Homo sapiens: one gene and its partners. The protein of the gene in region 3 interacts with the protein of the main gene of each other region in a biochemical or structural test. Each region holds a gene or a part of one and is shown on either strand. Other genes may lie near its edges.

What was found. Proteins that work in one complex are often made in the same cells at the same time.
Region 1: the proteins of ZEB2 (region 3) and USP16 form a complex in vitro, tested with the Homo sapiens proteins (one study listed by BioGRID).
Region 2: the proteins of ZEB2 (region 3) and DGKG form a complex in vitro, tested with the Homo sapiens proteins (one study listed by BioGRID).

The regions. Positions count from the first base shown.
Region 1 is NC_000021.9:29,034,150-29,042,325, forward strand, and holds part of USP16 (ubiquitin carboxyl-terminal hydrolase 16), read left to right. Parts: intron 1-687; coding exon 688-791; intron 792-2,121; coding exon 2,122-2,225; intron 2,226-3,126; coding exon 3,127-3,314; intron 3,315-4,185; coding exon 4,186-4,281; intron 4,282-4,876; coding exon 4,877-5,007; intron 5,008-5,331; coding exon 5,332-5,419; intron 5,420-6,459; coding exon 6,460-6,538; intron 6,539-7,863; coding exon 7,864-7,955; intron 7,956-8,176. UniProt on the Homo sapiens protein: Specifically deubiquitinates 'Lys-120' of histone H2A (H2AK119Ub), a specific tag for epigenetic transcriptional repression, thereby acting as a coactivator.
Region 2 is NC_000003.12:186,246,577-186,254,752, reverse strand, and holds part of DGKG (diacylglycerol kinase gamma), read left to right. Parts: intron 1-1,570; coding exon 1,571-1,660; intron 1,661-2,833; coding exon 2,834-2,994; intron 2,995-8,176. UniProt on the Homo sapiens protein: Diacylglycerol kinase that converts diacylglycerol/DAG into phosphatidic acid/phosphatidate/PA and regulates the respective levels of these two bioactive lipids.
Region 3 is NC_000002.12:144,425,504-144,433,679, reverse strand, and holds part of ZEB2 (zinc finger E-box-binding homeobox 2), read left to right. Parts: intron 1-3,653; coding exon 3,654-3,911; intron 3,912-8,176. UniProt on the Homo sapiens protein: Transcriptional inhibitor that binds to DNA sequence 5'-CACCT-3' in different promoters. Represses transcription of E-cadherin. Represses expression of MEOX2.

The sequences.
Region 1 (8,176 bases), on a different chromosome or scaffold from region 3:
AAACTGAAAGAATATGCATGTGAAGAAGGAGGCTGAAGTTAGGGGAATGTTTAGGAGACTGTTAAGGAATCCAAACCAGACTTGACTGCATTAGTGTGGTTTAATCTGGGCTGGAAAGTTGGACAAGAAGAGTACTTTGAGTGCATGGTTTTCTTTTTTTTTTTTTTTTTATTTTGAGATGGAGTTTTTGCTCTTGTTGCCCAGGCTAGAGTGCAGGCCCAGACGTGATCTTGGCTCACTGCAACCTCCGCCTCCTGAGTTCAAGCAGTTCTCCTGCCTCAGCCTCCTAATTAGCTGGGATTACAGATGTGCGCCACCACACCCGGCTAATTTTTGTATTTTTAGTAGAGATGGGGTTTCACCATGTTGGTCAGGCTGGTCTCGAACTCCTGACCTCAGGTGATCCCACCCCTGGCCTCAGCCTCCCAAAGTGCTGGGATTACAGGTGTGAGCCACCGCGCCTAGCGAGTGCATGGTTTTCTAAATACTTGTTGACTTAAATGTTCTCAGTTGCCTGTGCATATGTAAGTTTTAACAAAATATTGATTCTAGAGTCTAACATTTTCTTTTCAAGATTGTAAGAATGGCAGAATTTCATGAGCCACTTCCTTGTTTATGATAGATTATGCATTCTCCCCTCTTGCTGAGTTTTTATGGCTTTGAGGTTTATGATTATGATTTTTTTAGGGCTGTGGCAGAAATTCTCAGGAGCAGCATGCCTTGAAGCACTATCTGACGCCAAGATCTGAACCTCACTGTCTGGTTCTTAGTTTGGACAACTGGAGTGTATGGTGAGTTTCAGTTCCTCTGCCTCTTGGGTGGAAATTATTTGAAATATTAGAGAATGGAAATGTTTAAATATGTTTAAGAAGAAAGCAATTTAAAATTTTTGTAGTATGTTTTAAAATACCATCACTTTCACAAAGCTAAAGAATGCAGTATTATGAGAAGCTTTTACTTGGACGTTTGCACAAGCACAAACATTGTAACATAGAAGACTTAAGAATCTTTACCCCTTTGTTTTTCTTGCTTGTGATATTATAAGGCATATAGTGGAGATAGGGACGCTAAGAACAAATTTCAGATAAAATTGTAATAAAATTTTGGCTATGAATTTGCATGAAAATAAATGTCAGTCTGGTATGTTATAGATGCTGCATTGTAACATCATTAAAACAGATTTTTACGTCTTAAAAATCATTTTCACAGTAGTCTTCACTGAATGACATCTTTTTTTTTTTTTTGAGACGGAATCTTTCTGTCGCCCAGGCTGGAGTGCAGTGGTGTGATCTCGGCTCACCACAACCTCCGCCTCCCAGGTTCAAGCAATTCTCCTGCCTCAGCCTCCCGAGTAGCTGAGATTACAGGGATGCACCACCACGCCCGGCTAATTTTTGTATTTTTAGTAGAGACGGGGTTTCACCATGTTGGTCAGGCTGGTCTCAAACTCCTGACCTCGTGATCCCCTTGTGATCCGCATGCCTCAGCCTCCCAAAGTGCTGGGATTACAGGCATGAGCCACCGTGCCTGGCTTGAATGGCATCTTTCAATTGTAAAAGTTGTTACTTTTGTCTGGCTAACACGTTGAAACCCCATCTCTACTAAAAATACAAAAAAAAAGTAGCTGGGCATGGTGGTGGGTGCCTGTAGTCCCAGCTACTCGGGAGGCTGAGGTAGGAGAATGGCATGAACCAGGGAGCTGGAGGTTGCAGTGAGCCGAGATCCTGCCACTGCACGCAGCCTGGGCAACAGAGCGAGACTCCGTCTCAAAAAAAACCAAAAAACAAAACAAACAAAAAAAAGTTGTTATTTTTGTTAGTGTTATTCTGTATTTTAAAATATATGTAAACAATCTTTTGACTTCAATGTTATAACCAGTAAAGTAAAACGTTTGGAGTATTTCATCATACTACTTATATGCAGCCATAATTCTGGCTAATTTTATTAATAATAAACCAGAGTTAATATGCATAGTCTTCTTCAGGAAAACAGAATTTTTACGTTCGGTTTCTTTAATAGAATAAGTTGGCAGTTACACACTTTGATTCCAGGAATTATTATTTGTCTCCCCCTTTTTAGTTGTCATTTTGTCATTTTTCATCTCTGATTTTTGGGTCACAGGTGTTACGTATGTGATAATGAGGTCCAGTATTGTAGTTCAAACCAGTTGGGTCAAGTGGTTGATTATGTCAGAAAACAAGCCAGCATTACAACTCCAAAGCCAGGTAAAATAATTTGTTTCTTTAATATACACCAAATGTCGATTTGTGTATCTGCTGATACTTAGATTTGTTATACTACCTAGCATTACATACAGCTGAGTAACATTAGTTATGGTTGATTGCAAACTATGAAACTATTTTTGGTTTAACTATAAGGTATTAGAAGGGATATGAGAAATGATCTAGTCAGATGTGATGAAGGCCATAGACTAAGGTAATGGCCATTAATGCTAAGACTAAGGTAATTCCCATAACCCTAGCCAGGCTTACTATAGACCTGCCTTACACTGTTCTTACTGTCGTACATTTTGTAATAGCAAGATTTCAGTCTGTCTGCTGGGATAACATAAAGCATTTGTGATTCCTTCTAATGGTCAGATATTTCTTAGGTTCTTTCCATGCATAATTAAATTAATTGGCTGACATACAGCATTTGCTTTAAGCATGTTTTTTAAGTTTTTATTGTCACAAGTATCTTTGTCAGAGCCAGAATTATTTGTTTTTTACTTTAGGATTGATTTTTGACCCACAGAATTCATTAAAAAATTTATTTCATGTCCATGTTCTTGATTGTTTTATATTCTTAATTTCACAAGGTAAGATGTGTTCATTTGTAAAGAATTTTCGTGCAGTAAAAAAGGGAGATTTATACCAAAGCACATACTGTTTGGTTTCATTTATCAAACTAATGCTTACTTTAGGTCTGAGTATTTTTTGTTTACTGGGTTTTGTGTTTTTTTTCTGGATGGCAATTTACCTGTATCTATTTAAAATCAAATGGGTGGGTGGGTTGGAAAGAATGACTTCAGGTAAACTCACAAACTCTAGTACTGTTTCCCAAGTATACTTCTGCATTCGATATGACTGTATTACACATTTTGCTAAATCTTTTCTTTTTTTAAAGCAGAGAAAGATAATGGAAATATTGAACTTGAAAATAAAAAATTAGAAAAAGAGAGTAAGAATGAACAAGAGAGAGAAAAGAAGGAAAACATGGCTAAAGAGAATCCTCCCATGAATTCTCCTTGCCAAATAACCGTGAAAGGACTCAGTAATTTGGGAAACACATGTTTCTTCAATGCAGTTATGCAGGTACATTGTCATTTTTTTCCCTTTAAAAAAGCTGTCCTTTTCCTCATAGAATCTGCTACTTACATTATTGAGTTTTTTCCACCTGAGTAATTTATTTCTATGTATCCAAAGAAAACTTTTTTTTTTTTTTTTTTTTTTTTTGAGACAGGGTCTCACTCTGTCACTCGGCTGGAGTGCAGTGGCACGATCGTGGCTCACTGCAGCCTCTACCTCTTGGGCTCAAGCAGTCCTCCTACCTTAGCCTCCAGAGTAGCTGGGACTACAGGCATGCGCCACCACTCCCAGCTAGTTTTTGTATCTTTTGTAGAGACAGGGTTTCGCCATGTTGCCTAGGCTAGTCTTGAACTCCTGGGCTTAAGCCGTCCACCCCCTTTGGCCACCCAAAGTGTTTGGATTACAGGCGTGAGCCACCATGCCTGGCCAAAGAAAACTTAAGGAAAGTTTTATTGCATGACAGTAAGAGAGTTTGGTGAGCACTCGGGTGCAGTGGGTTTGAAAGAAATATTGCTGCTTCTTTCATGGAGCTTGCACTTGGGTGGAGGAAACACAGGATAACCTCATATAGAAGCAAATACGTACCTACAGGTAGTGGTAAGTGGTTGTGAGAGAGTCATGGTGGAGGATTGGGGATAGCTACTTCTGATTGGGTGGTGGGAGAATGCCCCACTGAGGTGATGAATAAGCTCAGAACTGAAGTAGTTATGACCCAAATAGAGTAGGGAGAGAAGCATCTGTAACTTTTCATTTTCCAAGTATAGAGTTTTCAGTGTTGGTCATGATTTTCTGTTTTGATAGAATAGACACTTAAGAAGTGTCAGAGTTGATTTGCCTTTAAATAATTTTTCTCTTTTTTTTTCACCCTACATTCTAGAACTTGTCACAAACACCAGTGCTTAGAGAACTACTAAAAGAAGTGAAAATGTCTGGAACAATTGTAAAAATTGAACCACCTGATTTGGCATTAACAGTATGTTCTTTAAACTTTTCTAGTCTGTAACTTTCCTCTCTGAATGTGTGTTTTCTAAATTATTTTAAATAACTGACACTCATTTCCACTGTTTTTGTTTGTTTTGTTTTACTTTAGGCTACTAACTTAAACAGTTTCAGGCTAATAGAAGTTATAAGGAGGCATTACATCTGTTTGCTGTGTGTGTGCTCTGTTTTTCTATGCTCGAGTGTTAAGCTTCCTTCTTGGGAATGTGTATATGTTTGAGAAGCCTTAGGCTTACATTATTATTTTTAACATCTTTAAGGTGACTTAAGAGCTGTGTAACCAAATAAATATTACCTTATCCATTTTTATTATTTACATTTTGCTTTGGCTCTTTCAATTCTTAGGTAGTAAGTGTTCCAGATAATCTAAAACTAAAATAGTAGAGCTGAATTCTGCATAAGACAGTCTGTGACCAAACAGTTTCTATCTCTTTTGATGTACATTTTAAACTTTTAAATGGGGCAGTTCTGTCAGGAACATTGGTAGTATATGTTAACTAATTAGATTTTAGTAAAGTCAGTGATTCCAGAATTTGACTGAAGAAAGTAATTTCTTTTCCCATATTCAGGAACCATTAGAAATAAACCTTGAGCCTCCAGGCCCTCTTACTTTAGCCATGAGCCAGTTTCTTAATGAGATGCAAGAGACCAAAAAGGGGGTTGTGACACCGAAAGAACTCTTTTCTCAGGTCTGTAAAAAGTGAGTATCCACTTCGATTGTGCTTTCAGTGCCTCAGTGAGATGCTGAGAAATAATATTAATATTAAATAGTAAAATATAAAAATATTAATAGCATTACATTTAGTCAACCCTCTATATACAAAAGGCATAGTTTTTTTTCATTTGGATTTTAAAATATATTTTATGTGATAGTTAAATCTCCCAAGGGTGTTAATGGACTAAACGGAAATTTGTAGAAACCAGAACTCTCTGAGATTTGGGATATGATCCTAAGATTTTCTAAAAATAGCTTCAGAGCTTAGTAGACTGAAGATTGCTTTTCTGTCTTTTTGTTTTTCTCTAGAGCAGTGCGGTTTAAAGGCTATCAGCAGCAAGACAGCCAGGAGCTGCTTCGCTACTTATTGGATGGGATGAGAGCAGAAGAACACCAAGTTAGCATGTTATGACCATTGTATTTTATGATCTTATCTTCATAAGCTTTCTGTCTCATTTGATATCTTACGAGTTAAAACAATGAAAGCTAGTTATTAAGGCCATCATACTTTAAAATTTTTTCTTACACCAGCTTTTTCAACTAGTATGTTTTCACCATTAGAATGAATCCAGAGAATTAGCAGTAATTCTCTTTCTCATGATGGCTTAAGTTTAGTTGATGTTTACAGCATTAATGTTCTTTAAAGATTCTGTTGTACTAACCTATACGAAGAGAGCTGCCAAATATTGGAAATTGTTTCTCCCAAACCCAGGTGCAGCACACCCTTACTTTTAATTCTGAGTCTGATTTAATACTGTTTTTTGAACCTAGGAAGTATTTTCATTTTGTAAGAGTCAGGGAACATTGGTTGCATTTTAAAATTTTTGTTACTTGCCAGGATATAAAAAAATGTATTTGGGGTATGAATTAATGAGTACTAATAATAGTGATAATAACTAATATTTATTTCGCACTTATTTTTATGCCAATCACTGTTTTCAGTGTTTTGTATTAATTCCCTTACTTCGTTCTCACAAAGTTTCTGTGAGGTGGATACTGTGATTTTTTCCTATTCCATAGATTGAGAATCTAGGCTGTAGAGAAGTTCAGTACCTAGTTTAAGGTCCCCCAGAAATAATGGAGCTGGGCTTTAAGCACTGGAGTCAGACCCTGTGGCTGTCATGTAATCATTGTGCTTGTAGGACAAGCTATTTCAGTTTCTTCTCAAAGGTGGTGGGCATGTTCTGAAAACCTTTGGCTTGAAGAGGTTTAAGATCTTGAAATGATAAGATAATACCTTTATTCAATGGTTAGTGATTGCTTTGTGACATAATTCCTTTTTAGCTCCTTGAATTAAGTTTGAAAATGTGATTTTGGAATTATTTAGTAAATATGGGGAGCTGTATCCTGATCACTTTCTTGACTTGATTACATATTTCTAAGGAAAATAAAATTTAAAATTTAATAGTATATATATATCCATTTTATTACTTTTAGAGAGTGAGTAAAGGAATACTTAAAGCATTTGGTAATTCTACTGAAAAGTTGGATGAAGAACTAAAAAATAAAGTTAAAGGTAATGTCTGACTTTTTGAACTAAAACACTATAGTTGAATTCCTCTGTACCTTAGGACAAGATTGCTGGCACATATATTTCCAAGTCCACAATTATTAATGTATAATTTCTCTTTATCAACGTTGATTAGTAAAAATTATTCAGTGCTCCAGAAGTGAACAGTTTTACCCCATGGTGTATTCTTTTTATGTATTAAAGATAGAACTATGATGAATTACAGTTTTACTTTTCAAAAGCTTAAAATTATAATTAGCAGTAATACATGAATTATATTTGTTACTGTGAGTTGTCAGTAGTTGGTTTATTAATCATGGAGCCAACTTAGTTCTTATTATGTGGCGTGTAAAGATTTAGGGCAGATCTGCCCAGTAGAACTTCCTATGTTGATGGAACTCCTCTATACCTTTGCTGTTCCATATAGAAGCAACTAGGCACGTGTGGCGCCTGAAATGTGACTGGTGAAACTGAGGAACTACATTTTTATTTTTATTTAATTGTAATTAAATTTAAATAGCCGTAAGTGACTAAGGGCACTGTATTATAAAGCACAGATTTGAATCAACTCATAGCAACTCTTTGCCTCCTTGGTGCCCTTTAGAGCCTGGCCAGTAATGGAGAGAATTACCCCTGCTGGCATTTTCTGTCAGAAAAGTGTGGTTCTGCATAAATTATCATTTGAATAATGCTTATAGGTTTCACGTATTTGGAAAATTGGCTGATCAAGTAGTAAAATTATGGCTTTTAGTTATATTAAACTTATCAAGATTATTTCTGGGAGCATAGGAAAATAAAAGGAAGATTTTGTTTGAAATATTTTCCTGAGGTTTTTCTTTTGTTTTTAAAATATCAAAGGAGTTCAGTCTTAGAGTTCACAAAACAAGTTACATGCATTTTCTCTCCCAGTTTGCTACTCTGGTATCTTTTATCAGTCTTGAATGTTAGAATGTTAGAGCTAGAACTAAGGAACTAGGCTGTCATTCAGCCTACTCTGAGCTGTTCATTTTATACTAATGGAGAGAGAGAGAAAGACATAGAAGTCTCACTGACTTGCACAGTTTACTTCCCACTGACTAGATCTTGGATAAGGACTTTTTTGTCTTATTCATAAAAGGCGATTGTGTTCAATTATGTTATGCTCAGAGGTGGAATATATAATACTGACTTCTATTGCTTAAAAAAGGTGATTATGAATGGAGGAAGAAGTCTGTGGGACAGGAAATTTAAAATAAAATTTTAGAGTTAGATAGGTAAGTAGTTTTAGCTTTTCTTGTTTAATTAATTATATAACGGTAATTGGTAATTGATAGACTTTTTTTTCTCCATAGATTATGAGAAGAAAAAATCAATGCCAAGTTTTGTTGACCGCATCTTTGGTGGTGAACTAACTAGTATGATCATGTGTGATCAATGCAGAACTGTAAGTAGATGTCATGTATACTGGGTTTATTTGCTAATATTCAACAGTTTATCAATTGTTTATTTCAAAAGCAGAAATCTCTACCTTCATAGGATATCTTTTTAAACTATTCAGATGCTATTCAGATGTGCATGGTTCTTTGTGGGAAATGTCAGCACTCCTTAAATCTTGAAGACGTTAAACAGTTTGATTTATTTCCCCCAACCCAAAGTCCTCAATGT
Region 2 (8,176 bases), on a different chromosome or scaffold from region 3:
ACTGGAGGCGGAGAGAGCCGAGAGGAGGCTGTTGCAGCGATACCAGTGGGAAGGAATCATACCTGCACTCAGGCATCACCATGGGGATAGAGAGAAGAGATTGCTTGGAGATCTAGTAAGGAGACAACACATAGAATGTGATATGTGAATGGATGTGTGAGGGAAAAGGAAAAACCTAGGGCGGCATACAGCTTTCTAGCCTAAACACCATAACAACAGTTGACCTGCCGAGGTGGGGACACAGAAGAAGGGGCAGACACAGGAAACAAGAGCCTTCTAGGCAAAGGGAGCAGGCTGTGCAAAGGCAGGGAGGCAGTGCTCTGAACACATGTTCTGAGGACAACGAGAGGGGCCATTGCATTGTTTTGCTCTCTATCTCAAGCCTTCCAGTGGCCATCTCAGTCCTGGGTCTTGCCTGCGCTCAGCCATTTCTGATATAGGTCAGACAACCTGGAGGACCTATGAGCTCCCAGTTTGCCAGGACAACCCTAGCTTGAGCCTTCCCTGCTGATTCCTGCATCTCTCCTCACGCCGCAATCACATTGCTCACATCCAGGGGCACCATGCGTGCTGAGGTCTCATGGAAATACCCACCCACCCCCAAGACTGATGGATGCCTGTGCCCTCTTCAGCTCTCCCAGCCTAGACAATATGCCACGGTAGATCTGAGGCCAGATGAAAACATGTTCTATTGTGCTTTCTCTGATGGTTCTGTCTGATGTCCTTCACAACTGTCAGAAGAGGAATAATTAGGAATCTGTGTCATTGCAATTCTGAGAGGTGGTGGAAGTGACAAACTGGTTGTGGGGGCCAAATAACACCTGGAGGTTTTGTTCATTTAGCTAATGTTAGTTTTTAAACTTTTAAACTCGAGTGGTGAACAGTTGAAGGTGAGCATCTTCAGCTTGTCCAATGTCCCACTATTCCCTAGTGTCCTAGCCCCACCTGTTTTACTAATCTGTATACCTGCCTGGCCCCTGAAGAGAGGAGGGGAATGGACTTGGAGCCATAGAGATCTGGGTTTGAATCCTGGCTCTGGAATTACTTTCCCTGTCTGCCATTCAAGTATTGACCAGGCCTAGCTGCTGCAGTCAGATGAGATTGAGCGTGTTCAGGGTAGAATGGTTGTAGACTACTTTCCCTCTGTCAATCTCAGTTTCTTCAGCTACTTGAAGGAGGATAATCCCTTACAAAGTTAGGCTGAGGAATAAATGGAGTAAGTGCTGATTATCATTAAGGATTAAAAACATGCAACTTAATGTTTTGGGGTGTATGCTGCCACCCCAAAGGACAGATTTAGGATGAAATTTGAATAAACATATGCAAGTTGCAGGGATACAGATTTAGCTCAATATAAAATACAAATGGACAGATTTAACTCAATTAGTGGTGGTTAACACGCTGCAGATGGGATAGATGGCTTTAGGAAGTAGTGTGTTTCCCATCAGGGTGGTATTCAAACAAAGAATGCTATGGAGGGGTTCAAGCATCAGATCAGGGATAAAAAGACAACTCAAACATTCTACAGTCCCATGGCATATGGTTCTCTGTTCCTCTGTGTGTCTTGCAGATAAGGCCAACTTTGCAAAGCATCCACCAGTGGCTGTCCTGCCTCTTGGAACAGGAAATGACCTTGCCCGTTGTCTCCGCTGGGGAGGAGGTGAGTTTGCATGCTAATGGTGGTACCCTGGGAACAGGTGTTCCTGTTTACAGAGATGCTCTACAGAGCTAGGCTGAACTTACCCTTTTATGGATCACATTCCGCAGCATAATACTCAACTCTGCAGTCATGTCAAGTCCATGACCCTTTCTCTGCCCTCCATCCCATGCTGAATCTAGAATAGAAGCCCCTCTTCTGGGCTCTGGGAGCTTTTTCTCCCTCAGCCCCGAGTTTACTATCATCCTGAAACCATCAACTTAGAGCCTGCTTTCCCCAGTAGAAAGCAATCAACTGTAGGGTAAAGACAAAGTCTCATATGTCCCATCCCCAGAGTCCCATCCAAGAAGGTGCTCACTTAGATGTTTTCTGTGTGAAATTCCCTCTCCCACAAATGGCTGATCTTCTGAATTAGGACTAAAACTGAGGACCAAAATGCTACATCTCCAGTTACTTACCGTCACTAGAAGCATTCAGATCATCCTAAGCCCCATAGCCATGGGCCCTCATTTTGAAATTTCCCTAAGAGGAAACACAGAGTGGTAACCAGTGTATAAGACAAGGGGCAGAGAACTTTGCAAACTGCAGTAGCCCCCATGGCGTTGGACATGCGCCAGAAAATGGAGAAGTTCAGCTCAACACATGGAGCAGACAGATCAGGCTGCCGGCCAGAAAAGGGGTGGGGACTCCAGATGGCTGCTAATTCAGAGAATGAGTCAAGACCAGGCAGTGCAATGGTCAGTGTTCAATGATCAGCTATGCTTGGTGGGCAGTGTCAAAGCAAGCAGGACCTAGGCCTAGCGGCCATCTTAAAATTCTGCCTGCCACACTGTCCATCTCCCACATGACACAGCCCAGAAGGATCTGCTGTTCTCCCATGCAGAGACTCCCAGCCATCCAGCCCACCGCTTCTCCAGGGTTTGCTTCGCTTCAGCTACACAGGCCTGTGACCTTTAGCTAGCACCCACTCCCTCCCCTGCCCCCAGCCTCTGATTACTTTCAGTTATCCTGCCCTTCTCTGTGGCTCGGGGAACGTAAGTGTCTCTAGCCCACAGACACAGTGGGGAGTCCCATAGTCACAGATGCCCTGGGCTTACCTGCCCTGACAACTACCTGTGCATTAGCAAGAATACAGCCTTTCTGCTGTGGTGGCAAATGCAGTGCTGTCCTCCACAGGTTATGAAGGGGGCAGCTTGACAAAAATCCTGAAAGACATTGAGCAGAGCCCCTTGGTGATGCTGGACCGCTGGCATCTGGAAGTCATCCCCAGAGAGGAAGTGGAAAACGGGGACCAGGTCCCATACAGCATCATGAACAACTATTTCTCCATTGGTGTGGTGAGTTGGTCAAAGATCACCTTTCTGTATGGAAGGGAAACGCCCAGGAAGGGTTCCAGCCTTCTGTTGTCCCCTCTGGGTCCCTAGTGTCTACCTGTCTTACCTGCCCCCCCAGCCCTGAGTTGGGTCCAAGCATTCTGAAACTTGGCCTGAGTGTGGACACCCTGATTGCACCCCCGCTTTATTCCCCATCTCTTGCTTAGGGAGTAAATTCTCTCCTCTGTCATTTTAACTAACACAGGAAAAGACAGAAAAATTTTCAAAAGACATATTTTCTCCTTCTGCAATTTGTAGCAGTCGTAGAAAAGCAACACCAAGAAATAACCGGGGGACAAGGTTGGTAGGAAACTCTCACATGAGCTTCAGGAACTGGGAATTCTGATCTTCAAAGGAAGACCATGTGGTCCCAAGTTGCCCTGGCTGGCTTAGCCCTCAGATTTCCTTCTCTCCTATTCTCTCTTCTCTCAACCCCATTCCACTCACTCCATGGGCATCATAAACCTCTAGGGGAGTCTCCTCCCAGCTGACCCCTTAGGCTGAATGCTGTGAGCCTCCTTGATGCTCCCACAGCCCTTATGCTCACCCCATTCATGCACACTCTGCATTAGGTTGAAGGAATTGGTTTAATGTGCTTATCTGGTGCCCCCCACTGCCATGCACACACACACACTCCCTCAGTGCAAGGACAGCACTCTGTTCCTTTTTCACCCACTAGCCCCAGCACATCTAGTGTAGCTCAGCTTCTGGTCCAAAGAGGATTGGAGTGGGCACTGCTTCCCAGGCTGCTGTGAACAGGATCGGAACAGGAGGGGACAGATCAATCATTTCTATAAATGAAGCTGGGGGTTGGGAGGGGGTGGGAGTGCAACAAAGACACTAGTATTTACTTTTTTTAAGAATGACAGAATTGGTCAGGCACGGTAGCTCACGCCTGCAATCCCAGCACTTTGGGAGGCTGAGGCGGGCAGATTGCCTGAGGCCAGGAGTTCGAGACCAGCCTGGCCAACATGGTGAAACCCCATCTCTACTAAAAATATAAAAATTAGCCGAGCGTGGTGGTGGGTGCCTGTAATCCCAGCTACTCGGGAGGCTGAGGCAGGAGAATTGCTTGAACCTGGGAGGAAGAGGTTGCAATGAGCCGAGATCACGCCATTGCACTCCAACCTGGACAACAGAGCGAGACTCTGTCTCAAAAAAAAAAGAATGACAGAATTATTGAACTATTTGTTCTTTTTTTCAACAAATATTTATCAAATTTTTTCCCTAAACTTTTATTTTAAGTTCAGGGGTACATGTGCAGGATGTGCAGGTCTGTTATGTGGGTAAGTGTGTGCCATGGTGAGTTGCTGCACACATCATCCCTTCACCTAGGTACTAAGCCCGGCATCCATTAGCTGTTTCTTCCTGATGCTCTCCCTCCCCCAACATCCCCACAGGCCCCAGTGTGTGTTGGTTTCCCCCTCGTGTCCATGTGTTCTCATCGTTCAGCTCCCACTTGTAAGTGAGAACAGCCACTAGCATTTATTGAGTACCTGTGTGCTCTCCACAGTGCTAGACTGTACATATTCCAGCCCTCACAGTAGTCCTGCAGGTATCATTATCCTGCTCATCTCACTCTACAGATGAGGCTTCGAGACCCTTGACTCGCATGGTGGTGCCTTGTTCTGGAGCCAGGTTCTCTCCTCTCTGTTCCCTTGTCTTTGGAGTTGTGCTGCCCAGTTTCACATGCATATGAAACCCTCCAGACGAATCCTCTGCCCCAGACTCTGTGATACCTGCACTCCTCAACCATCCTCAGCTGTGTTTCTTTTGAAATTTTGGTATTTTAATTTTTTTTAAAGGAAAGAGAAGGAGAAATGATAGGTGGCTTGAGGGGATAGCAAGTTTAAGTAAAGGGTGTTGTTTTGTTTTGTTTTGTTTTGTTTTTGAGACGAGTCTCACTCTGTCACTTAGGCTGGAGTGCAATGGCATTATCTCAGCTCACTGAAACCTCCGCTTCCCAGGTTCAAGCGATTCTCCTGCCTCAGAAGTTGGGGTTACAAGCGTGCAATACCACATCCAGCTAATTTTTGTATTTTTAGTAGAGATGGAGTTTCACCACATTGGCCAGGCTGGTCTCAAACTCCTGACCTCAAACGATCCACCTGCCTCAGCCTCCCAAAGTGCTGGGATTACCGGCGTGAGCCACCATGCCCAGCCTAGGTTTTATTTTTTTAATAAGAAGGCTAAATAGAGAACCATGGGAGAAGAAAGGACTAAAAATAATAATACCTTATATTTACAGAAGGATTTAAAATTTACCAAATTCACAGATATATTCTGAAGGGCATTATTATCTCTATTTTATGAATAAGAAAACAGAGACTCAGATTAAGGGATTTGCCTTTATTCTCTGACTCCTAATCCGGTGCTCTTTTTCTATTACTAAAGCAGAAGAGGGAAGCATTGCTGGGCCCATGATCGGGTTCTGAGAGGGTGGAGGTGGTAGACTGGGAGCAAGTTTAGGGGTTCCTATGTCCCAATCTGATTCATCCCACTGGATCCCCGGCCTCAGCTGAGGGGAATGTTTCCCTAGACCTCTTCCAGGTGCCCCCTCCAGTGACCCACGCAGATGCCCTCCCTCCTCTTCGTGCTCAAAGGCCCCTCTCCTTTTTGGACCGGCTGTTCAGGCTCCGCTTCCCCCAGCAGGAACATGTGCAGCCTTCAGCTCCTGCAAATTAGACATGACTGACAGGTCCGGGGTTCTGGAGCGTGGGCTTCCCATCATTACAGTTAAAAAAAACTCATATGTCTTTTTCCTATAGTAACCAGAACATAACTTGCTAACATTTATTGAGTACCTACTGCACACCAGACATAGTTTCCCTGCCAGTGGAGGCAGGCATTATCCATTTGTGTTTTGTAAGAAGGAACCATAGCTTAGAGAGGTACAGAAACAAGTTCAGGCTGGTGAGTGGCAGAGCTTGGAATCATAATATTTGAACTCTAGAGCCAACTGAGCTGTGGACCACTGAGCTTTGTGCCTCCTTGAAGCCCCCTCCGTCTTCATGTTGCCAAATGTAACATGGTTTGAAAGAGGGGAATCTCAAAATTTAGTTGTGGTGGCTCACCACCACCTCTTATCAGAAATGTAAATTCCACCCCCACAACAGATGCTGATTCATATTCCAACTCAGTAGGTCTGGGTAAGGTCTGGGAACTGGCATTTTTAACAAGACCCTGAGATCATTCTGATGCAGATGGTCCTGACCAAGTTCTCAGGGAGTGAAGACAACCTACTAGAGCAGAGAAGAATGGTCAAAGGAAGTGGCTCTTCGCTGGCATGGAAGCCGGAACTGAAATAAATGGAGAGGGAAGCAAGGAAGGAGGGGAGAACTAGCCCTCTAAGCAACGGGCTGGAAGCCAGAGCTGAGGAGCAAGACTGGCAGAGCTGCCTGGGAACTTCTAGACAGCAGGTTACAGCGCAGCTGCCTGCAGAAGCTTCAGCCCCACCTCTTCCCTTTCTAACACACCCAGCTCTGGCTGACAAAAACATGGTTCCCCACACCTCCCTGTCTCAACACAGTGCCCTGTATAAGATGGCCCTCCTTAGTATCTGCTGACCAAATGGATGAACACACAAAGAGGAATGGACAGCCTTCCCTCAACTAAATAGCCAGGCCCTAAACCCAAGAGCCAAGACTATTCAGTAATCATAGTTTTAATTTATTCTAGCAAAAAAAGTAGGAAAAAAGGAAGGAAGGGAGGGAGGAAGGAAGGAAGGAAGGGAGGAAGGAAGGAAAGAAGGAAGGAAGGAAGTCCTGCTGGCTGGCTAATTAATTGTCCCCAAGGAAACACATATAAACAGATTCTCCATCACTCTCAGTGGTCAAGATAATTTACCTACCTTGGGCTGACTTATAATAATCCAATCTATTCATCTTTCCAATTATGAACAACTTCACAATATCTTTCTTGTAATTTTTTTCATACACCTTTAGCTTATCCATGTTTAATATTATGTTGCAGAAGAATGAGAAACCAGGGCTGTTCTCATCTCATTGGTGTGCCCTTGGCTTTCTCTCAATAAAATGTTTGCAGGGTTTGTATGCTCGCTCTTTAAAAGTTGAAAAGAGAAATTCTTGAGAAAACAAGTAACCAACACGCAACCCTAACAGAGTCTGGGGCTGACATTTGCAGAAGGTCTTGCTCCCTATTTGACTTCCCAAACTTTGTAAGAGAAGTAGGTATGTAAACCGAGGAAGTTTTACTTCCTTATGATGATCAAATAGAGGCGGACTCCACTGGCAAAGAGAGCCCTGCCAAGGTCTTTGCCTCTTTTGAAGGACCTAGAATATCTTATGATAGCAAACATCTGTTGCTTTGTATTTATAAAGATGATGACAATGACCTCTGAGACAGTGCCCTTGGGTGCTGTGGGTAGAATTTTCTCTGATGAGTTTACTGAGACCCCTTGATGCCAACAGAACCCATTTAATAGCTGAGGGAATAAATAAGGCAGGGTCTCCTGGCCTCTCCAGGGAGTGACTGTGCCCTCATTGCTACGACAGCCCCATCCACACATCAGTTTCTCACCAGTGAGAAGCTAAGATCGTTGGCCTTATCAGTCCTTCTAACTGATAATATCTACTGGCAGGAGATTTTAAACACAGTCATTCAGGATGCCACTTCCTCTGACTTCTCTGGCCTGCTCCTCCCTGTTCTTTATTTTTAGATTAGCAGAAAATGTCAGGATGGCCAGGTATCAGTGACAGGAAGTTTGGGACTACAAAATAATTCCCAAGGTATGTGTAACTCTGAACTCCTCACAAGCTCTGCTTTCATGAGCCTTAACAGGACGGGTGAACAGCTAATCCCTTGATTCAGTGAAATCTATTTCTGATGCTAGGGGAGCCCAAGGGCCAAGGAGAGGCCACAGTGGTTGCACTGACCCACGCACCGTTTTCCACCTTGCAGATCGTTCCTAGCTATCACCAGACAAGCTTCCCACCATGATAAGCGTCCTACACATAGGGAATTTCTCAACAAGACATAATTTTTCCTGCAGATTCTTGGATTCTGCTGGCACCAGGTTATTTGTCACCTGTGAGAGCCATGAAGATACTAATACAGTGGGACTCCCCAGAGGGACGTGGACAAGGGTCTATACCCTTTTCCATTCCCCAATCTCCCATAATTTTCA
Region 3 (8,176 bases):
GGTGAAGTGAAAATAATGCTTATTATAGATAAACTATAAAGCCTTTTAAATATAGGCTTTTAGTAATGCATATGCAGATATATCTTTCCAGGCCCATTTGCTATAAAGCAAATTTAAGTATCAGCTTTATGCCCTTTGGTAACCCCATATTATACATACAGTTTTAGAGAAAATGAAACTTTAATATGATTCCACATAAAATGGTGAGCCATGCCAGTAATTCTTATGCCCTTCATATGCAAATAGTTTTATCTTATCCATCAATTATCATGTAAACATAGTATCACATGGCAAATTTCCCTGTAATACAGTACAGTACCTGTATATAATTATAGGTGCATTTTGCCAATGCAACTGTTACACAGAATTGTAATTAATTCCTCTGAAGACTACTGTGAGAGTTTTGGATACTGATGCTGTTTTTGGACATTTATTACTGCTCTTTAGTTGGCTTTTTGCTATGCCTCAGAGACAGATGTAAAATTAGTGTCTATTTTGAGCCAGCAAACAGTACATCTTTCCTCTTGTTTATTGAATTGCAGAAAGGAATTCTTTGGGCTCCCACTTCTTTGTGGTTTTGAAGTAACTGTCTGTTTTTGTGCCAGCCATGTAGCTCCAATACATGTCTAAAATTTTGCTGAGACTCATGCAAAGGGTGGCTTATTTGACCTGTAAGGACTGAATAGAACTTTGCTACGTTATATGGGAACTTCCAGGCTTTTAAATGCTGAATAAAAAGATATATATCATAAGTTCAAAAACAGACACTGGCCTAATATATTCTGCCCAATGAACCTCATTTAAAACCAGTATACGTTGGTTATTATACAAAATTGAATCTCTTCTTTGCAGAGACAAAGCTACATTATTAAGATCTCTTCTGCCAGTGGTGATGATGGTGGGCAAACATCAAAACAGGTCCAAATGGGAAAATGAGCTTATTTTTATTTCATAATGTAAGTGCGGCTAAACCCATCAAGTATTGGCCATTCTAGAGTAAGAATATTTTATGGTGAAAATTTCCACAGTACTTGTACTAGGCAAATCCACTGACTAGACGTGAGGGAACATTTTAAAGGAAAATCCTGGGATTTAGAAGTCGGGGCATGGGGTAGGGATCAGGAAGTGCAAAGTCCATCTCAGTGCATTTAATTTTGATTGTCAGATGGTCAACCAGAAAGAGCAGAATGAGATTGTCTCATTTGAATTCAGATATAAAAACTATGTTATGAATTGTTGTACCTGGATTTAAAAAGGGGTTGGGAGAGTGGCACACCAGCATAATGGCATATGGAAATGCATATCCTAGTTAACACAGCGCTAGAAAAGATGGCATACTGCCTCTGTAAGTGAATTTGACAGCAGTTATTTATTTAGTTTAAAAGTATTTACTACTATTTGTGAGCACAAACCCTAAAGGTTGTGAAGTATTGTTGTCCTGTGAAGGTGATGGATGCTGTACTCCTGACCCTATATGGTGAGACATGACTTCATTGCTTGTTTAGATTGTTCTGATATTTGGGACTCCTCAAGGGCTGTTCATAAATCATTTATCTCTCTTTTTTTTCCACAAGAAAATATTTCAATTGTATTGCTGCAGGAACACTCACGTGTCACACGGGATATTGTGGTCCATGCAGAAAAAGACCTTAAAAGGCATGGGTTTTTTTTTTTTTTTTTCCAGGATAAAGGCCTTTTAATGCCTGTCCAGCCTTAGATAATTTTATTCACTCCTTCTGGACCTTTCTTTATTCCTCCTGTGCCCAGAGATCAGTTTTTAGGAGGTGGGTTGAAAGCTTCCCAGGCCTTAGGAGCTTTTGTTGTAGCCCCCCCATTCCCACTCCCCCCTACCCCCAGCATTCTGAAAATTTGTAAAGAATCTTCTGCTTGTTGCTAAGAAATAGTTAAATCTCAGTCACCAGGAAAAAAAAAAAGAAGCACATTATTGATTGTACTAAGGTATATCTGGACCACACAGCTAGAGCAGAGATGTTAGAATATCTCTCTTTTTGTAGATCTGAGGGCATTACCCAGCCTGAACTTGCCTAAGCCCTTGTGGTCACACCTCTTGAAAAGGTTTTGTTTCCCCCGTCAATTGGTATTCAAACCAGGTCAGCAGATTCTGTTTGCCCGGCTCCGCTGCCGTTTTCATTTTAATTTGCACCTGTTGTGCAGTTGTTCGGAAGGCAAGTGCAGACCCGCGGATTATACAAAGATCATATTATGAGCAGATATGCACGGTGTAATCTTTTTGTCCCCAGCTTCACATGACAAAAAAAAAAAATCTCTCTCTTTTTGTTCCTTTTTTACTCCCTGGGAACCTGTCAAAGCAAACAGATATGACTGACTAAAATTTGTAACTAGACATGTTTCCAGAATTCTCCAAAAGCATTATGAACCTGACACACAATCCTTTTCATTTTTTTCCTCCTTTTCTGCCACTTTTGTATAATCCGATAGCTGGCAAGAGCCACTTGAGATAGCTCAGTTGATAACTTAGCGGAGGATTGCTTTATTAGGCGCAGAGAAATCAAAATGAACCTGAAAATTGTTTGCGCTTTTTTTTTCCACAGCCTTTTTTCCCCCTTTCTCTCTCCCTCTTGTTCCCATGATGTCATGGTTCTAACTTGTTTTTTTGTGTGTGTTTCTGGAGAGTTGGGTTAACAGTTCTTGGCAATCCTGTGTGTGCGTAACGGCTGGTGTGTTTCTCTAGCTGAGCTAATGCCCCGTGTTTATTACTCTAATCTTTCTTGTCTGGTGGTAAAGTGGACAATTTATGTACTAGCATGTAGGCCGAGAGCCTGTGAGGGCTGACTAATTCAGAAACAGCCACCTTCAATTGAGTTCACAGACCTTATTTACAGGCTGTCTATTTTAAGAAAAGCTACTGAGCATTGCTGGGACTGAGGGCTGCAAAAGCAGCCCGCCGGTTCTTGTGAGTTATTTTAACATTTGTGTTGGTCTTGCCTGTGTCACTTTGAAATCTTCTGTAATTATGACACTATGAAGACATCTCAATAGTAGTATTAATGGCCCAGAAGATATGGCTTTTCCTCATTTTCTGCTTAAAAGATTAGGATATAAATGGCCTTAGCACATGACGGTTGACATAGAAGAAAGAGTGAAAATTCAGATGGAGCAGGTTTGTGTATGTGTTTGTGTATTTGGGTAAATAGATGGACGTGTGTGTGTGTGTCTACTGTTTCTAGGGAAAAAACCACAGTTAATATAGTGAAGTCATCTCGTATTTATAGTACAACATTATATAGTAAATACTTCATGTCTCTAAGCTAATAAAATTGTCTATTGTAGATCTATTTTATAAGTTTTTGTGGAGTATCGAAAGTACATATTGCAATACGTCTCTTTACATATGCAGTATAGGCATAGTTTGTGTGTCTATGTTTCTGTTGCTTTTTAGAATTTCCCATCATTTTTAGGAAAAAATTGTTTAAAATCAGAAAGAGCACCCAGCTATAATTGAAAAAGAATAAAAATGCTAAAACCTGAAGGATATTAATTATATTTTCCTGACATGGTTGAGTAATTCAGTTATGAAAATATTAATTATTTTCCATTTAACTAAACAATTAGGGGTGGCTGATGTTTCTCAACAGAGTGTTTAGAGAGTGTGTTTTGTGCTTCTTCTGCAGTGGTGAACTATGACAATGTAGTGGACACAGGTTCTGAAACAGATGAGGAAGACAAGCTTCATATTGCTGAGGATGACGGTATTGCCAACCCTCTGGACCAGGAGACGAGTCCAGCTAGTGTGCCCAACCATGAGTCCTCCCCACACGTGAGCCAAGCTCTGTTGCCAAGAGAGGAAGAGGAAGATGAAATAAGGGAGGGTGGAGTGGAACACCCCTGGCACAACAACGAGATTCTACAAGCCTCTGTAGATGGTCCAGGTAAGTGTCTAAAATCACTTGGCCTCTTCCTGTACCATCTTCACATCTTCAACTAATCTGTTCCACCTAGCAGATCGCCCACAACCAAATAATTAAAATATTTCTTTCCATTGAGCCCTTGCAGAATAGAGATACCAAAGCTGGTGACAGATTATGAAGTGATAGTAATGTTATCACATTGCGGCAGTTACATCTTAGGAAGGGATTATATTTCAGTTTTGATGCAAGTCAAACATGAACCACACTTTCAACACATAACATGAGGTATTTGCACCACATTTACAATGTGCAAATTATGTAACATGATCAAGATCTATACTTTCATGATAGGAAATGGAAGCAAATGTAAAAACTCACAACATATATATGTATATAAAAATATTTTGTGTGGAAATTATGTAGCATTTCAAACCAAATAACTGTCAGTTTAATGTAGCTTCAGTGTCTGTCTGACACCTCCTATTGGAATTCAATCGTTTAATGATTCCCTTTTGTTAAGTGTGAATGTGATTTCACACTTTTACCTGGTCAGGTAGCTTTCTTATTATTTATCAGCTAAGTACTTGATAATGATTCCTGCTGTTTGGTGGGACTCTCAAGGGAAGTAAAAATGGTCCCAGGCCAACTATAATAAAACTAAGGTAAATTATATTCAAACTAAAACTTCCGACAACACTGTGCAAACGGGAAATGTCTTGGTCTAAAATTCACTTATGACGGAGAATCGCTAAGGTATGAAATGTTTAACAAAATACAAGAAATCTTATTCCTGTGAACTTTCTCTGCTCATCTTTACATGGTAAAGTGGCCTGGAAAATTTGTTTAAATGACCTCTCTAATTCAGACCTCATGTCACCTTCATCTCTATTCCCAGGACCCACTGAGAGTTATCATTGTTTACCCCACCTTGTTTTTTCTTTGACAACATAAGCAACAAAAGCATTTTTATAAATAGGTGAAGTGGCTGGGAAGGAGTCTACCTATATGCTGTTGTGATGTCGCAGACTATAAACCATCAAACATAGGCAGAATAATTGTTTGGTATACTGGAAGGAGGATAATAAAAGCACTTCCACTACGAAAGAAAATTAAATGTGAGATGAAAGAAAAAGAAAAAAGACTGATGGCAATTTGAGTACAGTGTATTTGTTTTTCGTTTTCCTAACATACTGTGCCAAGTTTTCTACTCTTTCCGTTTCCAATTTTGCTTTCGGTGAAGGTTTCTCGAATCTCAGCAATCCCACACATAAACATTTATCGTTATATCCATTAAGCCTTAAGGTTTTAGATTTTCAACTATGAGGGAGAACTCAGCCAAAGATGCTTGAAAGATAAATACGTTTAATTAGGGGCAGAGGATGATCATTAAAGGAAGTCTGACTGCTGCAGAAGTCATTAACAATCTTAAATGAAATTTTTATTTTTATGATAGCCATTTACATGTATAATAAGAGCCAATGATTCTTGGGAGCAGTGTGACAGAAACAGAGTGTGGCGAGAACTCATGTAAGACATACTATTTAAATGAGCTGGTGTTAGCTATTCATATTTGTTAATGAACTAGATATGCAGGGCTATAAGAATGAATGTTCTGATGCTTTAAATTTTAATATCTAGAAATCAAGGGTAAGGACCAATTACTAGAATTTCCACCCTTAGAAGAATAATTAATAACAATGTAACAAATGTACAGCCCCAAACCTCTTTTAAAAAAGTTTAATTTAAAAAATTTAATATCAATAGTTGAAAAACAGCCAAACAGCAATGTCAAGCTGTAGTAGTTTGTGATTGTGGCAGCTTTTTGTGTTGGTCATGGATCATAATTCTAAACGTTTTAATATACAGTAATCCATATGAATGCATTGCAGACCCTGTTATCACCTGTAGTTAATGGTGCCTGTGATACAAGTGAACAGGCTGTTCTTTGCTCTTACCTTTATGGTAAATAAACCAGCATTCTGGAGTCACAATAATTAAATAAAATGTAAATCCCTAATCTCATTTGGCTATTTGGACCAAGAAACTTACCCGGCTATTACCTGTCTAGTTCTAATGATTACTAATGATTTATTGTTCTTTTTTTTTATTGTTCTAAAAGTGCTCTGATGTGGTGCCTTGATGTCTAATGAAAAGAAATTGGTCTTAAAAAGCTACTCATTGTTTATCCTGACTCTGAGATAACACATTTTTCTTCTGATAAAATATTTTTCTTATTTATTGTTCAAAACACACAATATAGACAATAACTCTAATTCTGGTGCAGTTTTATTTAGTAGTGTTTTATCCCCGGTGCCTGGCTGTCTACAGTCATACCTCAGCACATAGCTTTACTCTGAGATAAGCCCTCTCTCCTTTGCTCTTTCTCCCATGCTTTCTGGAGTTTGTCTGCAGGATGCAGGTTTTGAACTGAAGAGCGCAGTGGAGTTCTTACTGTGCCTTTCCGGTTCCAGCACAATCAAAGTTTTGTGTTTGGAATTGTCCTTGACATTCTTTCGTCCCACAATGGGGTGGACACAGTGTGCTGGAAACCATGACATCATTATCATTGACACAGACTTAAATAAATCACCTGCATCTTGGCCTCTTTCTGCTTATTCAAGGATTCTTCATCTTAAGGAAGAAAGTGCTCTTTATTTTTACAAATCTTCATCCCAGGGGTGACTGGAAGACGCAAACTTTTACAAGTGTTTTAAAAATAAATATACTATGTGGTTTTAGACACAGTATGCTGAGTCAGAGGTGTCTTAGAGAATGTTTAAGGTTAGACATAAGGCAGAAAGACAGCCAGATTGCCTTTAATTCGGAGGCAATATTCCTAAACTGTGTATCATTATGTCCTTCTGAATATGGATTCACTTGAAACTTAATTAAATAGGCATATACATAACATTTCAAATACATACCTGAAAAGGCTTAGTAGTGTTTCATTTTCACACATTGAGCTTGATATTCAAAAAAGAAAAAGATTGATGCTCAGTGAATCAAAGCAAAGTACTTTCTAGGTAAAAGTGACACCATCTCATCCAATGTCTCTGAAAGATCTCAGTTGCACAGTCTTTGGATAAAAAGGGTTATAACTAAATAATACTACAAAATGCAATTTACACAATGTGCTGACTACACATTTGTATACCCAGCATTTATTAATTTGGGAAGCAACCAACTACTGTAACTTCTCTTTACTTTTTCATAAGAAAATGACAATGAGGAAGGAAGTGCAGCAGAAATCTTGAACATTACCACTATTATGCAAAAAAAAAAAAAATGCTGTTAACTGTTTTCCCCTCAGTGACTTGATGTGCTCTCAGATGGAAAACTTATGATTCTTGTGACTCTTGGCTACCCGAAATCACATGAGATGAGCAAGGAAGAAAGACACAAAAGCTATATTTATATCTAGCCCTGAACTTCTCAGAAATACCTTAATATGATTCCTTGCAGAGACTGATAAAAATATCAGATGAGGGAGACTTTCAAATGATCAATGATTACAATTGACAATACAATATTGCTATATATTAAACTTCTAAATGTTTAATGTAAAATGTCTCTCTGAAAATATTTTTTAAATAAAGGAAAATTCCTTGCTCAGGAATGAATTTAAGTGGTTGTACAGCTTAAACAAATATCATTCAAATTATCTGATTATTATGAGGAGTGAGATTAAATTAGCATCCAGGTATATCTGTGTATTTTACCTTAAGAGGATCATGATTTTTCAGTTCTGATTCCATAAAGAGATTTGCTGCACTGCTTGTAAAATATATTTTATTTTATTTTTGCTGTAACATTTTCTAGAACCTGTTCTTTCATGAAAGTAGATTAGAATATGATAAGCAAAGAATGACCAGGACAGATTTGGAAATTCGTAGAGTCCTAGTTACAAAGTTTCCCTTGTTTTAAGTAAAATGATTATCACAGAGAGATATTCATCCTGGAGCATATTTGGTCTCATTAGTATTGTCATAGTAAAAATAAAAATTTTTAAACTTCACGTTTAATTTACTTAAGAGATTTTTAACTATCAGCTATCCTGCTCTGTCCTCCTACGTCCTCTACAATCTGGTAGGCAGAAAATTTGAGAGTGCCCCTATTTTTCAAATTCTCCCTTATTTTAAAATATTGCAGTTTTTGACAATGACCTTTAATTGTTTATGAATTTTTAACTTCAACATTATATATATTCACCTTCATCAGAACACTGAGCTGTTGTTATATATGTTTCCCCAGAAAATGATTATGATTACCTACAGGGGCATAAATCA